Regions from separate parts of the Homo sapiens genome. Here region 2 is linked to region 1. Evidence: fine-mapped expression QTL. Tissue or cell type: tibial nerve. Region 1 holds a variant in brackets; the other region holds the start of a gene. All regions are shown on one strand. Distances are between the middles of the regions.

The links. PIP is the estimated chance that this variant, and not a neighbour inherited with it, causes the effect.
Region 2: it holds the start of FGF4, and the variant in region 1 is fine-mapped to the expression of FGF4 in tibial nerve (GTEx, PIP 0.95).

Annotation. Positions count from the first base shown.
Region 1 is chr11:69,742,226-69,748,407 of GRCh38, reverse strand. No RefSeq gene overlaps it. Among named protein-coding and RNA genes, the nearest start is that of FGF4, 30 kb to the left of the region's middle. The variant G/A (reference allele first, on the strand shown) is at 3,564.
Region 2 is chr11:69,772,852-69,778,537 of GRCh38, reverse strand. FGF4 (fibroblast growth factor 4) reads left to right here and starts at 3,197. Exons shown (of 3, transcript NM_002007.4): 1 at 3,197-3,793; 2 at 4,411-4,514; 3 at 5,053-5,686. The coding sequence starts at 3,454. The coding sequence ends at 5,229. RefSeq lists enhancers at 1,525-2,448, 4,298-5,223 and promoters at 2,913-3,308, 2,196-3,308.

The sequences.
Region 1 (6,182 bases):
TTATGCTGAGGTGGGGGAGAGAAGACAAGTAAAACAAGTAAGAAAATGACACAGTGTCTCAGGAGGTGGGGAGAGGCAGAATGGAGAAGAAAGAAAGGGAGGGCTGCAGGGAAGGCCAGGGAGGGGGCGGGATGGGAGGGGCTGCCACTTTAATTCCAGTGTTCGGGAGAAGCTGTGCTGAAGAAAAAGTGTCCCTTGGGCATCGATGAGAGGGCAGCCTGCAAGTGGATCCAGGGAGGGTGCCTCAGGCAGAGGACTCAGTGGGGACAAAGGCCAGGAGACTGGACTGGAAGAGAGAGGAGGTCAGGGCAGCTGCAGCAGCGGGTGGGTGGAGAGCAGAGAGGGAGCTGCAGAAGCAAAGGGCCTAGGGGGCCATGGCAAGGCTCGAGCTTTGCTTGGAGTGAAGTGGGAGCCACTGGGCCTTTTTTTTTTTTTTTTTTTTTTGAGACGGAGGCCCGCTCTGTCGCCCAGGCTGGAGTGCAGTGGCATGATCTCGGCTCACTGCAACTTCCGCCTCCCTGGTTCAAGCGATTCTCCTGCCTCAGGCTCCCGAGTAGCTGGGATTACAGGTGCCCGCCACCATGCCTGGCTAATTTTTGTATTTTGAGTAGAGACGCAGTTTCACCACGTTGGTCAGGCTGGTCTCGAACTCCTGACCTCGTGATCTGCCCACCTTGGCCTCCCAAAGTGCTGAGATTACAGGCGTGAGCCACCACGCCTGGCCGCCATTGGGGGAATTTAAGCTGAGCAGGAGCCTGATGAGACTTGAGCTGTAAAAGGGTCTTCTGACTGTGGGACTGAGAACAGATCACTGTGGAACAAGGAGGAGAGACCACCTGAAGGCTCCTGTCATCACGAGGGGAGCGAGGTGGGTGCCTGGAATGCCAGGGGAACTGGGGTTGGAGAGAAGAGGTGGCGGGTGAGCCAGGACTCTGCACACGTCATGCTGTCTCAGCTCACAGGGACAGCCAGGCTGCCTCCCTGCCCTTGACCTTGATGACCCCTGACACTTTGGGTTGGAAATGCATTTGTCTCCATTTCAATGAATGATTTATTTTCCGGTTTATAAAATGCACCCACCATACTTGCTCATGAGCTCACAGACCCAAAGAAAGAACGTCAGGAATTTCCCAGCAGGACAGGGGCCGGGCTCGCCCCGCCCCACACGCAGGCATCTCTGCTCAGCCCCCTCACCCCTGCCAGCCCAGCACCCAGAGGCTGAAGCCAGCAGCAGCCCCGTGAGGCCCCACAGGCCCTGTGGGAGCAGATTCCAGGCCCAGCGATCAACCCTCGCCTACGGCCACCCCTTCCTGAAAGGTCCCCTCCTCGGCCGTCGAAATCAGAGACCGCCTTGACCGGCTTGCTCGTGGGCTGGCAGCTGGCAAGCAAGGGGACGCATGGATTTCCAGGGGCAGAAGGCCGTCAGCTGAGAGCTCGGGGGCTCCCAAAGGACAAGACCCAGCAAGCAGAGAGGGAAGGTGGAGGGCACAGCCCAACGCAGCCCTGAGCCTCAGGGGACGGCAGGGGAATCCACTCAGCTTTGCTGTGCAATCCTGGACAAATCACTTAATCCCTCTGTTCTGCATGCATCCAGCTCAAAACGGTGCTTAGGAGGCTGGGGTGCTGGGACCCTTCATTAAGCCATGTTTGCAAAGCCCTCCAAAGGCTGCAGATGAAAGTGCCTATTGAAGTACAAAGCGTGTCTCCAGTAACCCTCTCCGTCCCAGGCGGGACTGGAGACCCATAAAAGAGAAGGAAAGAGGCGGCCAAGGGCATTTGGCCCCAAGCACAGAGGCCACCAAGACTAGACCCTGGCAATGTCGGCCCCTGAGAGGCACCTCTCAGCAGCAGGCTCCTCACCACCGGCTCCTGTCCCTCCTTGTCCCTCACTAGGCAGCACCCCAGCACTCTGGCCTTCCTCAGCAAGCCCATCTGCATGGGGGACAGAGATGGATCAGAACCCTCTGCAACAGCTGCCAGTGGAAGCCTTAGACCAGCGTTCAAGGCTCCAAAGCATGGCCCCAGCCAGCCTGGCCCTCACTGTCCTCACACAGGCCACCTCTGCGCCTCCTCCTGATCTCCTCCAGCCTAGACGTCCTCTCCTCTGCTCGTCTGTGCCTGGAGGTCCAGCCCTGGGGAGGCTCCCTGCCTCCATAGCCATGGTTCGTGGGTGCTCAGGATCCCGGCATGGGAGTCTGGGTGTGCATATCCCCTCACCCCTGGGGTCCTCAGATGTCACATCCGTGGAGCCCACCGACCTCAGGCACTGGGGCTCTTCCCTGACCCCTGACTTCCCCTGCCATCTTTCTACACAGAAACAACCCCATGCCCTCTGTCTGGAATATTCCGAACTGCCCTCCTTCATCTCTTTGCCCCTGCACTTGGGGAATGTCTGCTAAAATGACTCTCACATGTCACTCTGCAGTGGCAAAAAATCAGCTCCAGTCCCTCAGCCACCACCCAGAGGGCCTGCGGACCCTCCCTCCTTCATTCCCCATTCCACGTCCCAGCCCTTCCTAGCCCTCCACATCAGTGATTCACAAAGGACACAGTTCTAGCATGACCAGGGCTTGCTCGGGAAGAGGCTGTGTGGCAGAGGGCCCTTCCTGGCCCTGGCTTCCCTGGTGGGGGCCCTACAGGCCAGCCTTCCCTCCCCCACAGTGCACAGGCCAGTGCCGCCTGCTGGGGTCCTGACCCCACAAGGACAAGTTTTCCCTGAGCTGCCCCCCCAACTCTAGGGGCAACCTCCAGATGTGCCAGGGACAGCCAGGGCCCCCAGAGACTGAAACGAGGTCCCAGGGAGGGAAGGATGTGTCAGTGGTCCCCCCGGGGTGGTCCATGACACCTCAAGGTGCCAATCACCCACATGAGGCCCAGCAGGCACTGAAGCAAGCCCGCACCTGGGTGGGCACGGGACAGGCTTTCTGGAGAGCAATTTGGCAGTGCAAGGCAGTGCAAAGCAAAGCAAGCAAAGCACGGATCCCACCCCTATCTGTCACTCGCCCTCCAGGCCTGGAGCCTGAGAGAGTGACCACGGGCATGCAGTGCGTGCTCACATGGGGGCTGGAGAGGTTGTGGAACGGAGGTTCCTCAAAAACTCAAACTAGGGCTGGGCGTGGTGGCTCAAACCTGTAATCCCAGCACTTTGGGAGGCTGAGGCAGGTGGATCACCTGAGGTTAGGAGTTCGAGACCAGCCTGACCAACATGGAGAAACCCTGTCTCTACTAAAATTGCAAAATTAGCTCAGCGTGGTGGCGCATGCCTGTAATCTCAGCTACTCGGGAGGCTGAGGCAGGATAATTGCTTGAAGCCGGGAGGCAGAGGTTGCAGTGAGCGGAGATGGTGCCACCGCACTCCAGCCTGGGCAACAAGAGCAAAACTCCATAAAAAAAAAAACAAAAAAAAAACAAAAAAAAACCTCAAACGGAATGGCTCATACCATCCCTCAGTCCTACTGCTGAATAACACTCCAAAGAACTCAAAACACACGTCTACACAAAAACCTATACACAAGTGTTCACAGCAGCAAATTCACAAGAACCAAATGTCAACTCGAATACCC[G/A]TCAGTGGACGCAAAGATCAACAAAATGCCATCTTCCCATACAATGGGATGTCGTTCAGCACGAACGGGAATGAAGCCGGGACACAGGCCACAGTGTGGGGGACCTTAACAGCATGATGGCCAGGGAAAGAAGCTGGGTCAGGGGCCACACGTTGAGTGACTCAGCTCTATGAAATGCCCAGAACAGGCAGGAAACCAGAGGCTGGGGGAGGGGGAATTAGGAGTGACTGCTAAGGGGTGATGGAAACATTCCAGAAGTAGATGGTGGTGGTGGTTGCAAAACATTGGGAATGTTCTCAATGCCACTGAACTGTAAACTTTAAAAGGGATAAAACGGGAAGTCTTATGTGGCATGTATTTTCTACAATGAGAAAAACTGTTATCCTTGGCTGGGCACGGTAGCTCACACCTGTAATTCCAGCACTTTGGGAGGCCAAGGCGGGTGGATCACTTGAGGTCAGGAGTTCGAGATCAGCCTGGGTAACATGGTGAAACCCTGTCTCTACTAAAAATACAAAAATTAGCCAGGTGTGGTGGTGGGTGCCTGTAATCCCAGCTACTCGGGAGGCTGAGGCAGGAGAATCGCTTGAACCTGGGAGGTGGAGGTTACAGTGAGCCAAGATCATGCCACTGCACTCCAGCCTGGGTGACAGCGAGACTTAGTATCAAAAAAAAAAAAAAAAAAAAGAGAGAGAGAGAGAGAAACAACTTTAGTGTCAATCTAAAGGGGACAGGTGAAGTAACACTGGAATTTATATTCTGCAGCATTAAAAAGGATGCAAAACACTATTCAGTGATGCAGAAAGATGTTCCCAAGCTATTCAGTCAAAGAAGCAGGTTTTTGGGAGGCTGAGGTGGGCGGATCACGAGGCCAGGAGATCAATATCATCCTGGCCAACATGGAGAAACCCTGTCTCTACTAAAAATACAAGAATTAGCCGGGCGTGGTGGCGGGTGCCTGTAGTCCCAGCTACTCGGGAGGCTGAAGCAGGAGAATCACTTGAACCCAGGAGGCAGAGGTTGCAGTGAGCCAAGATCGCACCATTGTACTCCAGCCTGGTGACAGAGCAAGACTCTGTCTAAAAAATAAAAATAAATAAATAAATCTTTAAAAGAGCAGGTTAGAATGGTTTACTAGAAAGGTATTTGAAAAAGATACACATACATGACTGTGCTTGGAAGTTCTGGAAGGACAAACACCACAATGTTCATGCTGGTCATCTCTGGGTAATGGGACACAGAGCATTTTTGTGTGTGCATCTCTGTGCCTGCACATTTGTTCTCAGCTGTTTCTAAAATTTCCACAGCAAACTTTTGTAACCAGAAAAAGTTTCAGAGCAGGAAAAAAAAAAAAAGCAATAAGTATCAGGATTTTTCTAAAAGTCCAGCCCCCCAACCCCCGCATCCCAGCATATGGAGGTGTGGAGTGAAAGCCATCGTGGGCGGCCCCTCTCCAGTCCCTGTGGGCAGTGGACAAGGATGAACAGGCAGGGCAGGGCCCCCGCCCCCCGCCCATATGGTCTGTATATCTCCTGGCCATCATTCCTTCCAGCCAGGACACCACAGGACACCAGCTGAGGAGGAACTTACAAAGAGCAGGGGAAGGTCTTCCAGACCCAGGGGACGCCAGCACCTTTCCTTCCTGGACCAGTAGGACAGCATCACTCATTCATTTCTTCATTCATTCACACCTTTGTCAGACCTAACACCTGGCGAGTGCCCACTCAGGCCCCATGTGAGGGCCTGGGAAGCTCAGGAGACTGGCTAAGGCAGGAAGAGGAGGGTTCAGCCCTTTGCAGCGGCTCGCATTCCCTCTGCAAGCCCTGGTCTCTGTGGTGGTAAGAGCTGGTCTTCCCTTCTGGGCTGGAGGGATACTGGCAGCATCAAGCTTCCTCCCAGAGAGCAGTCTAGTCTTCTCCAAGCCAGCCACATCCTCTTCTGCAATCAGCCTTGGAGGACACTCAAGGCTCATTGGTAACTTTTTCCTCATTGCTGACCCTGATCCTGCAGGCCATCTTATGCTGAAGCCATCCTATGTGCCGGGCCCCAACCTGTGCGCTGGGGCTTCAGATAGGAGTCAGACAGAAGCTCCCTGTGTGATGGTGTGCTCCGGGAAAGCCATCTGAAAAACCAGATGTTCCCAGGTAAGATGCTTAAAACCGAGTCATTCCCCTGCCCACATCGCCAGTGCTACCCCCACATAGAACAAGAGCCACGTGTTCTGCAGGGTGAGGCCTCGGCCATGTCCTCTCCTCCCCTGACCCAGCCACACACTGACCCCTGTCATGCCCACCACCCTGCAGCCCCTCCACCCTTCCAGGCTGGTGCTCCAATGCCTTAAACGCTTCCTGCCTCAGGGCCTTTGCAGTCTCGGGTGCTCTTCTCCAGGTCTCTGCGGGGCTGAGTCCCCATTGCATGGCGATCTCAGCTTAAATACTGGCTTCTCTCACCTCTGTAGCTAAAGTGATTCCCCCTAAACACACCACCATTATCATCTGCTTTTTTGATTTTCCTTTTTTTTTTTTTTTGTTTTTTTTTTGATATGATGTCTCATTCTGTCGCCCAGGCTGGAGTGCAGTGGCACGATCTCTGCTCACTGCAACCTCCATCTCCCAGGTT
Region 2 (5,686 bases), 30 kb before region 1:
TGAAATAGCGTAAGGTTATACAACTAACAGGGAGACAGCCTAAACTTGAACCCAACCGGAAGCCCAACATGGCCCCAAGCCTTCCTCGAACCCCAGGACTTGGCAAAGCGGGCGTCCTGGGGTAAAGCATGGCAGAAGGGCTTTGGGTCCAAGCTAAGTGAGGGTCCTGTTTCTAGATCACCTGGCCAGGTGCAGTGGCTCATGCCTGTAATCCCAGCACTTTGGGAGGCTGAGGCGGGAGGATTGCTTGAGGTCAAAAGTTTGAGTCCAGCCCGGGCAATACAGCGAGACCTCGTCTCTACTAAAAAAGAAAACAAAAAATTAGCTGAGTGTGTAGTCCCAGCTACTCAGGAGACTGAGGCTGGAGGATTGCTTAAGCCTGGAAGTTTGAGGCTGTAGAGCTATGATAGAGCCACTGCACTTTAGCCTGGGCAATGGAGCAAGATACTATCTCAAAAAAAAAAAAAAAATTATATATAGGTCCCCTTGTCTCTCTGCTGAGAAGTAACCAGATCTGGAAAAGATTTAGTCACCTTGGTCCAACTATTTCTTTCACATAAAGAAAAAAAAAGGCAATGCAGACCTTCCCATAGGGGCAGCTCTGCCTGAGGCCTTTGCAGGTACCTCTGTTTGTCTGCCCCGGGGCACAGTGGCAGATTGGGCAGGGCAGCTTGCAGTGAGGATTGCTGATGGATGAGCTCCTAGTGTACCTAGCCAGCCATTTACTCACAAACAGCTATTGAGCACCTACTATGTGCCCAGCACTGGAGGTACAACTGGCAACAACACAAATCCGGGCTTGCTCCATGGAGATGACAATCTAAATGCGGTGGAGGGTCAGCTAACAAGTGCAGAAGGTTCTCTTAAGAGCTCAAAGAAGCTCCAACCAGAAGGACTGGGCAGGGGATCCAGAAGGCATCCCCGAGTGGCTACTCCAATGGAGTGGCTTCTCCATTCAGGCAAACCTGAATGGGATAAGTCATTGGCAGGAAGATCTGGGGCCGGGGGTCATCCAGTGGGAAGGGGAGAGATGACGCGGTCAGCATGGCGGGAACACAGGAGCAGAAAGGAAGCAGGTGGGAAGCCAGGTCAAGGGCCAGGGGCACGGAAAGGGGTCAGATGCAGATAAGTGAGTGCTTCCTGGTGCATCCTTCATCCGCAATTCTTCCTTACCTGTGCTTTTGTTGCCTCCATTGCACAGCTGAGGAGGCCAGGGCCTGCGGAGGTTGAGAGTGTGCTCAGGGAGCACCCGGAGCAAAGTGGAAGCCAGATTCCAGATCAGTTCTGCTGGGAATTCCCAGCTCCCAAAAGCCCTGCTGGCTGTCAGTCCCCAGTCACCACAAGCACCTATCCTGTGTGGGTGGGCCTGCAGTTCTGGGAGATATATCAGCTGCCTGCAGCGTCCTTTGCTGAACTCACAGCAAATAGGAGAGACAGGGAGGGGTCCTTGGGAAGCCCTAAATTGAGCTTGCTGTGGGAGTCCTGGGAAGAAAGGAGCCTCATCCTATCAAAAGCCGGGGGAAGACATCAGAGTCCCTCTGCTCAGGTCAGCTGGCACAGGTGGGTCTCCAGGCCTGGGTCTCACTTCCCCAGAGGGTGTGTTCGGTTGGCCCCAGGCTGAGGGAGGAAAGCCCACCTCCCATGTCATTTTGCAAATGGGGAGTCAGGGACCTAGAGATGGAAAGACAACACAGCAAGTGAGGGATGGGTTCTAGGTCCCCTGCACCCTGCACCCTGCACCCTGGCCAACGATGTCTATTTGGCACCAGATCTGCAGGCTCATCTGGGGGACCCCAGGACCCAGAGGCAGCCGGGTTGCATCTCGAAGCTGTGAGCTGCAGCCCAGGAAGGTCCAGGTCTGGGTGGCGCTGCCCAAGCAGGCTGCAGGCCCAAGGAGGAACAAAGATCCTCTCAAGGGGTGCGGAGCTGAGGTTCCGGTCCTGCCAAAGCCACTTGATGACCCCCAAGTGCCCCCCTTTCTGCACCTCAGAGAAGAGCCCTCAAGCCTCCCAGGTCCCCTCCAGGGGCACGAATAAGCCCCAGCAGGGTTCTGAAGGGGTCCCAGGAATCTCCCTGTGGGGATGCGGTGGAGGTGGAGGAGGCTGCGGTGGCCTGGGGACATCTCTGGTCACAGGTGCTGGTGGTATGAGAGATGGGGTAGGCACCAAGCCCCCTGCAGCTGTGGCTAGGCGGGCCTGCAGGAAGGGCCAGGCAGGCTCCTCAGGGACCACAAAGAACAGGGGTTTTCACACCTAGGTGGGCCTGCATCTAGCTAGGACAGTCCCCATCAGGCCATAATGGGCACAGTGGGAGGTAGAACCATGAGTGAGAGAGGGGAGGCTTCCAGAGGCCTGGCCTGGGTCCCTGCTAGATTGAGGGCTCTGGCTATGGTACATGGATATTTCTGCTGTGGAATCAAAGGAGCAGGGGATGCTGAATATCCCCTCTGGCCCTATGCCCTGCTACCTGTCCTTTCACGGAAGGGTGTGTGTGTAGGGGGTGCAGGACCAGGCCTCCCTGGGTGCATCTCTGCCACCTTGCCCTTTGGCTCAGGTGGACCTCCACCAGGTATTCAGAACTCCAGCCCAGAAACGCGCCAAGCCTGTGGGGCCAAGACCTAGGGGGTGGGGGTGGCCTCCCTCCCGCCTGTAGCCAAAGGGTCCTCCCTTGCCCAGCCAGGCCCCGGTGTCGCTTACTGCTCTTATCCACCCCTCCTTCCCAGGCCGGTCCTCAAGGCCCCAGCAAAGGAACCAAGTTCCCGTGAGCCTCCGAAAGGCGAAGGGCAGGCAGCAGCCGCTGGCTTCTGCGCCCACTAGGAGCTTCGGATGCCCGAGTTAGGGCTGCGCCAAGGCGGCCGGAGCAGAGAGGGAGACGGGGACGGGGACAGGCAGGGACAAAGTGCAAGAGGCAAAACTGGCTGAAAAGCAGAAGTGTAGGAGCCGCCAAGGGGCGGGACGAACAGGTCCGTGGGCCGGGCGGAGCCAAGGGTGGGGGCCGGGGTCCCTCCAGGTGGCACTCGCGGCGCTAGTCCCCAGCCTCCTCCCTTCCCCCGGCCCTGATTGGCAGGCGGCCTGCGACCAGCCGCGAACGCCACAGCGCCCCGGGCGCCCAGGAGAACGCGAACGGCCCCCCGCGGGAGCGGGCGAGTAGGAGGGGGCGCCGGGCTATATATATAGCGGCTCGGCCTCGGGCGGGCCTGGCGCTCAGGGAGGCGCGCACTGCTCCTCAGAGTCCCAGCTCCAGCCGCGCGCTTTCCGCCCGGCTCGCCGCTCCATGCAGCCGGGGTAGAGCCCGGCGCCCGGGGGCCCCGTCGCTTGCCTCCCGCACCTCCTCGGTTGCGCACTCCTGCCCGAGGTCGGCCGTGCGCTCCCGCGGGACGCCACAGGCGCAGCTCTGCCCCCCAGCTTCCCGGGCGCACTGACCGCCTGACCGACGCACGGCCCTCGGGCCGGGATGTCGGGGCCCGGGACGGCCGCGGTAGCGCTGCTCCCGGCGGTCCTGCTGGCCTTGCTGGCGCCCTGGGCGGGCCGAGGGGGCGCCGCCGCACCCACTGCACCCAACGGCACGCTGGAGGCCGAGCTGGAGCGCCGCTGGGAGAGCCTGGTGGCGCTCTCGTTGGCGCGCCTGCCGGTGGCAGCGCAGCCCAAGGAGGCGGCCGTCCAGAGCGGCGCCGGCGACTACCTGCTGGGCATCAAGCGGCTGCGGCGGCTCTACTGCAACGTGGGCATCGGCTTCCACCTCCAGGCGCTCCCCGACGGCCGCATCGGCGGCGCGCACGCGGACACCCGCGACAGTGAGTGGCGCGGCCAGGCGCGAAGGGGCGGGGGCGGGGGGCAACGGCCGCCGGGCCAACCCGCTCAGTCACACTCTGAGACCCTCGGCGGGCACCTGCTCGGGGGCCCCGGGAACCGGGGCGGACTCGGGCTCCGGTCCCTTCTGACGCGGGGCTGGGGACGCAGACACTCTTGGCTCCGGCAGCCCAGCGCAACCCCTGAGGTCGGGCGCCGCCTCCCGCCTTCAGAAACTCGGGCTCCGAGCGCCGAATTCCAGCGCCTTCGCCCGTGGGCACAGGGCGCGCGGTGCAGCCACAGGGGGCCCGAGACACGCGCCCCGGCCTGGCCCAGGCTGGGGAACCGCTGGGGTCGGGCTCGCGTCTGAAGGTCCGGGACTGGGTGCGGCCGCCGGGGGTCCCCTACACAGGCAAGCTAATCTGAGCTAGCGCAGGCTTGGGCTCCGGAGGCCCTAGAGGGCAGCTTGGGCTCTGGAGGCCCTTGGGGGCGGCTGCGCCGGGAACCCTGGCCCTTTATCCCCAACCCCACCCCAGAAATAGGGTCCCCGGAGGCGAACAAGCCGAGGGGCGGAGTGGGCCAGGGATCACCTGCCCCGCAATGACCTGCGCCCCGCCCCCAGGCCTGCTGGAGCTCTCGCCCGTGGAGCGGGGCGTGGTGAGCATCTTCGGCGTGGCCAGCCGGTTCTTCGTGGCCATGAGCAGCAAGGGCAAGCTCTATGGCTCGGTGAGTACCGCAGGGGTCTGGCTAGGCACCTAGTTGGGAACAGCGGACATGGCTAGCAGGCTCGTGGCTTCTCCAGCCCCACCTGTGCCTGGGTCTTGGAGGGGTGGCAGGGTCACCAGGTCACGGGACCGGCAGGCCTCCCCAGACAAAGGAAGCAGCCCCAAGGCAGGAACAATGAGGTTCCTGCCATCCCTGAGTGGGCCCCTCCCAGACCGAGGAAAGGGCGCTATTGAGAGCCCTTCCCTTCTCTAGTCCAGAGGGGTAGGTCTCAGTGTTGGAACTGCGGGCTTGAGGCTGGACACGGAGGGAATGAATTCTCTGGCTGCTAGGTGCAGGGCAGGTGGTGAGAGCACCAGCTGTTGTGGGCTGGCCATGTCCCCTTCTCACCCTGTGTGGGTCTTGACACCTTAACTGCTCAGCAGAGACATCTCAGCCCAGGGTGGGGGGTGGGACAGAAGGGGGTTCTGACCCCTGGCTTCAGGCTGGGTACCTTGCCCAAGAGGTGCCCCAGCCCTGACACTGCCCTGCTTTGCTGCAGCCCTTCTTCACCGATGAGTGCACGTTCAAGGAGATTCTCCTTCCCAACAACTACAACGCCTACGAGTCCTACAAGTACCCCGGCATGTTCATCGCCCTGAGCAAGAATGGGAAGACCAAGAAGGGGAACCGAGTGTCGCCCACCATGAAGGTCACCCACTTCCTCCCCAGGCTGTGACCCTCCAGAGGACCCTTGCCTCAGCCTCGGGAAGCCCCTGGGAGGGCAGTGCCGAGGGTCACCTTGGTGCACTTTCTTCGGATGAAGAGTTTAATGCAAGAGTAGGTGTAAGATATTTAAATTAATTATTTAAATGTGTATATATTGCCACCAAATTATTTATAGTTCTGCGGGTGTGTTTTTTAATTTTCTGGGGGGAAAAAAAGACAAAACAAAAAACCAACTCTGACTTTTCTGGTGCAACAGTGGAGAATCTTACCATTGGATTTCTTTAACTTGTCAAAAGTTGTCACGAGTGTGCTGCTATTCTGTGTTTTAAAAAAAGGTGACATTGGATTCCGATGTCATCCCCTGTAGTATGGCGTGGAGCATCTCTGTCTGGAAAGGCCCGCCTGAGGCTTGGGCAGCCAGTTCAGGGAGCTCCCAGGCTTGGCTCTCGGCTAGCATCCTCAGAGGC